Regions from separate parts of the Homo sapiens genome. Here region 1 is linked to region 2. A link means that fine-mapping ties the variant in region 2 to the expression of a gene that starts in the linked region. Tissue or cell type: cerebellum. Region 2 holds a variant in brackets; the other region holds the start of a gene. All regions are shown on one strand. Distances are from middle to middle.

Region 1 (2,608 bases), 460 kb after region 2:
GTTTCCTGGAAGCAGTCGCTGTGGGTATTCTGTTCCTTGTCAGCACTGTGCTTGCAAAGAAAGCAGACACTGTGCTCCTTGTCCTTAGGGAGCCCCGCTCCATCACCCAACACCTGGCTGGACACAGGCGGGAGGCCGGGTCCGCGGGGAGCGGCGCGGGGCTGGGGCCGGACCAGTAAACACACACGGGCGCCAGGCACTGCAGGCTCCTCCTCCTCCTCCTGCCCAGCGCCTCTGCTCACAGGCACGTGCCAAGCCCCTAGGCCAGGAGGCCCAGCAGTGGGTGCAGAGCAAGCTCCTGGGAAGGGGGTGCAGGGCGGACCCCCGGGGAGAAGGGCTGGCAGGGCTGTGGGGGACGCTGACCGTGGGCCCCACGTTGCAGAAAACTGGCTGCCTGGCTGGAAGATGGGGGAGATGCCAAGCCTCTGAGGCAGCACGAGCAGGGTGCATGGAGGCCGGGGCGCGGGGAGGCTGCACTGCAGCATGCACCCCAAAGCCCAGAGGGAGTGGAGACCAGGCCCTGGAATCGAGAAGTAGAAAGGCGGCTTGGAGGCCTCGGAACCGGCTGACCTCCAACAGAGTGGGGCCGGCCCTGGAGGCAAAGAGGTGCCCGGGGTCCGGCCCTGCCTGGGGGAGCTATGTGTCATGGGCAGCCACAGGATATGTAGCCAGCTCTGAGCATATGGACCCAGGGCAGGGCTGCAAGGCAGGGCAGGGGAGACAGACGGGGGAGCAAGGAGCAGAGAGGGGGCCTCAGGCTCTCCCAGGAGGAACATTCTCCCGACAGGAGGAAGAGACGGCCCAGGGGTGACTGTGGGGAGCCATGGTGGCAGCTGGGGTCGTGGCAGATGGGAGAGAGGCTGGCGAGGTGAAGGTGCAGGGGTCAGGGCTCTGGGGCCCACATGCCTGTGGGAGCGGGCAGGCCCAGGGCTCTCCGCCACTCCCCACTCCCGCTTGGCTCATAGGCTGGGCCCAAGGGTGGGGTGGGATGAGCAGGAGATGGGGCCCAGGGGGCAAGCAGGGCCCCAAAGACATTTAGAAAAACCGGTTTATGCAGGCAGCATTCAGAGCAGGCGGCGTGCGTGGCGGGGGCCCTGGGAGCACAGAGAGGCACACGTAGGGCCCCCGAGGGTCTCCCCATTGGCCGGCAGTGACATCACCCCTGTGTCAACAGTGATGTCTGCAGCTCCGGCCAGCCAGGGTTTATGGAGCGAGACCCAGCCCGGCCTGGGCCCTCACTCCCCAGGCCCACACACTAGCCCACTGTTCAGGGTCCGGGGTGGCAGCATGGCCTGGGGGTCCTGGCACCGCTGCTCCTCTGCCCACCCTAACTTCCCGGCATGGCGGCTGCCCCCTCTGAGCGTCCCCAACCAGTAAGTGTGGGGCCAGCAGGCCTGCCGTCCTCCTCCTCTTCCCTCTAGAGAGAAACGTGGAGGTCCTGGGGCTGGGGGCGCTCATAGCCCTGTGACACAGGTGCATGGGGTCAGGGGTCCCAGAATGGCCCCTGGGAAGGACCTCAGCTGGGCCGGCGGCTCTAGGCTTCAGGGGTCTGTCTGCACAGGGGCTAGCCCCTCCCAGACCTCTGTGAAGCCAGTACGGGCCTCCCCTCCCTGCCCCGTGCTCTGTCCGGTGCTTCCTGGACTGCACTGCGGGCCACTGGTGAGAGGGTGGACAGGGAAGGGCCGCCGTGGTGCCTGTTCCTGCCCACCTGGCTGTGTGGTCCCCTCCAAGTAGGGACAACCCTTCTGAGGGCTTGGGGGCACCCTGGGGTTGCCAGGGCCTCCCAGAGCCCTGTGAGCCCCTGGGGGGTCTGGCCTGATGCCCCCCTCCACGTCCAGGGCCGGCTGTGGCCCAGAACCCCAGCTTCCCAGCAGGCCGGTGTGCGGTGGTGACCCAGGAGAGGCCTCACCTCCACTGAGGGGCCACCGACCTCTGCCAGGCCACAGAGACCCCCAAGGAGTCTGAAGGCTGGAGACCCGGGGCTGGGACCAGGTGGGACTTTCCCACGGAGCCGCCCCCAGGCCCAGCTGGGGACACGTCCCCCTTCTCTCCAGACACACCCTGCCTGCCACCACGACACACCGGCCTGTTGGGGGTCTCTTTTAAGTGCTTGCCACTCTGAGGTGACTGTCCCTTTCCAAAGAGGTTTCTGGGGCCCAGGTGGGATGCGTCGGCCTGAGCAGGAGGATCTGGGCCGCCAGGGGCTGGGGACTGTCTCCTGGGGAAGGAAGCGCCTGGGAGCGTGTGTGCTGACCCAGGACCATCCAGGGAGGCCCGTCTGTGGGGCAAGCGGGAAGGGAGCGGCTGGAGAGGCTTGGCCGCCCCCGCCCTGCCTCCCATTCCTTAGCTCCATGCCTGTCAACCTCTGTCACCCAGTGAGTGATGTCCAGGGGCCCTGGAAAGGTCACAGCATGTTTGAGCGGGGTGAGAGAGAGGGGAAAGGCGGGGGCGGGGAAAAGTACGTGGAGGAAGCTCTAGGCCCAAGGAAGGAGAAAGGGTTCTGGGAGGGAGGGAGCCACTGGGGCCGCCGGGAAGGTCCCTGCCTGCTGCTGCCACCCAGAACCCTCGCCTCTTAGCTAGCCCCCGCAGCCCCAGCCTTTCTGGCCTG
Region 2 (2,608 bases):
GGAGGTTCCCGCCCCGTCTCCAGCTGCTCCCCTCTTTGGGGCAGGGTGGGGATGCCTCTGGGAGGGGTCTACCCCTCTCAGTCAGAGCTCCTTCTGCTCCCTCCTCTAAGCTGCCCGGGCTGCTCTGCGTGGAAGTCGAGGACACAGCCCCTGGCCCCAGGGTGGGGTGAGGGGTCCCAGTGCAGCTGGGCTGTCTCCATGCAGAGGAGCATTCCAGGGCCGAAGGGAGTACAGGGGTGGGGGTCCCTGTCCAGCTGCTCTGCCTGTGGTTCCTGCTTTCTGAATCTCTTCAAATCTCTGCCTGGAGCAAGTTCAGCCAGGAGCCGGGGAGAGCTACTCAGAGCACCCTTTCAGTGCGCCCCAGAGTATGATTTTGGAAGGCAGCAGAGAAAGGTGTGCACCTTAGCAGATATGGAGGGAAAGCTAAGAGCCCCCGCCCCCAGGGAACCTGCACTCTCTGGGTGAGGGCAGCCGTAGCTCACCCGCTGCCAGGACGCAGGCACAGACCAAGGCTTTGAGAGCCAACTCTCAAAGGGGACAGTCCTCAGGGTGCTTCCTGGTGGCAAGTGCTAGGTGGGAGTGGGGGTGCCCATGGATACAAACTGGGCCTGAGGCCAGGAATAGTGCACCACCTCACTTGAGACCACAGCATCCTAAGGGCTTCTGGGCATCCTAAGGGCTTCTGGGTGTCCTGAGGGCTTTCTGGGTGTGGCATGAGCAAAGTGGCCAGGCCTAGTTGTCTCATCTGTAAGGCGACCCAAATGTCCTCATCTGTGAGTGGAGGAGCGAAATGGGGAGCAGAGCCCAGGCCCCAGGTCCCAGAGCGGGCAGGGGCCTGTCCTGGAGTCAGCTCCCCAGCCCGGCTCTTCCATCAGGAGAAGTTCCTGCCAGAGGCGGCCAGGCAGATGCCAACAGACTCCAGGCGGCTCATCCTGAGAGTCCGGTGCCGATGAGGGAGCCACGACCCTCCTGGGAGCCTTTCTGCTGGTCCATCCACCCAGTGCCTGGGACCACAGCCAGGTCCTTCCAGTGCTCAGAACCCTCCAAGGGCAATGACAGTGCCGATCCCATGGCCCCGAGCCTCAATCCTCTAAGACAGGGTTCTCCAACCCCGGGTCCGTGGCCTGTTAGGGAGCAGGCCGCACAGCAGTGAGTGAGCGTCAGGTGAATGTGCACGGCCACCTGAGCTCTACCTCCTGTTGGATCAGCGGTGGCATTAGATTCTCACAGGAGCACAAATCCTATTGTGAACTGCGCACACAAGGGATCTAGGTTGCACGCTTCTTATGAGAATCTAATACCTGATGATCTGAGATGGAACAGTTTCATCCCAAGATCACCACTGCCC[G/C]GGTGGAAAAATCTTTCTTCCATAAAACAGGTCTCTGGTACTAAAAAGGTTGGGGACTGCTGCTCTACGGGGAACGGTGTTTCTGCAGAAGGGCTCAGGCACCCCCTTGGACCCACCACCCTTAACCTGGATCCTTCTGGAAGCACCATGCCTGCTCAGATGGACCCCACACCCTGAACCAAACATTAGAACTTCCCAGGAGATGGTCGAGAAGTGGGAAGACACCTGGGTCCCATCATGGATCTTCCCCACCTCCAGCCAGGGCCTGCTCCCCAGAGAGAAGCCCCTCCCCAGCCAGCACCCACCCACGTGGGGCTCCCAGAAGAGGGCTGGGCCAGGCAGCAGAAGCCACACCCTATCACATGGTCAGATGCCTCGTGTAAAAGCGGCCCCCTGGACTAGGGTCACGCGGCATCCCTGTGGTCACCCAGCCAGTACCAGAGACACCAGCCGCCTCCCTTTGTCAACCACGATAATTTTGCATCTGTGAGGTCTGGGGTTTCTCATGGTGGTTGGAGGAGCTGCTGGAGAGAGACAGCTACCCACCAGGAAGGGGTGTGGAGGCCAGGACGGTCTCACCGACGTGCCCGCAGGGACCCCAGATGCAAGCAGAGCATGGTGTAGGAGCATCCGGGGCTGGAGTGACCCACAGTGACAGCAATCCCATACTGGCCAGCCCCAAGGCACCTCCCGAGAGTGAAGCCAGACGCTGCCGCCCTCCCCTCTGTAACCAAATCCTTGGGGTCTGGGTCAAAGTGGCCCAGGATGGTGATATTCATTGCCTCATTCTCCCCTCCAGCAGCAGATGTTGGGCTTCTGGAAGCTTCTCTGCGGCATCTCCCCGGGCCGACACCATGCTCTCCCAGCACTGGCCACACACCAGCAACTCGTCTTGGGCATCTGCTGTCTCTCAGCTCTTCCTGGGCCTGGAATGTTCTCCTGGCATCACCGCCCTTGGGAGCTGTCTCCTCCCACAGATGCCTGAGATGAGATTGTCCCAGCCTTGTTGTTCTTGCCCGTGGACAGAGTCTTGAATCACAGCAAGATATCGCAGGGGCCAAAAGCCAGTTTGGAATGTCAGGGCTACGGAGGGCTCGTCCACCTCCCAGACAAGGCGGGTGGAATGCAGGGAACTGGGGGCCCTGCCTAGGGCCGAGCAGGGGCTCAGGACCAGGACGTGTGCATCTGCACCTTGGCTACAGGGACCGGTGGCATTCCCATCGCTGGAAGGCATGAGCTCCCTGGACCCGCTGCATCAGG

What was found. PIP is the estimated chance that this variant, and not a neighbour inherited with it, causes the effect.
Region 1: it holds the start of MRPL23-AS1, and the variant in region 2 is fine-mapped to the expression of MRPL23-AS1 in cerebellum (GTEx, PIP above 0.99).

What each region holds. Positions count from the first base shown.
Region 1 is chr11:1,988,591-1,991,198 of GRCh38, reverse strand. MRPL23-AS1 (MRPL23 antisense RNA 1) reads left to right here and starts at 1,279. Exons shown (of 4, transcript NR_024471.1): 1 at 1,279-1,373. It overlaps LINC01219 (long intergenic non-protein coding RNA 1219), which reads right to left and starts at 103. Exons shown (of 3, transcript NR_126400.1): 1 at 1-103. It also overlaps a transcript of MRPL23 not described here. RefSeq lists enhancers at 1-2,608, 1-2,608.
Region 2 is chr11:2,449,943-2,452,550 of GRCh38, reverse strand. All of the region lies in intron 1 of KCNQ1 (potassium voltage-gated channel subfamily Q member 1), which reads right to left. Among named protein-coding and RNA genes, the nearest start is that of KCNQ1, 6.2 kb to the right of the region's middle. The variant G/C (reference allele first, on the strand shown) is at 1,349.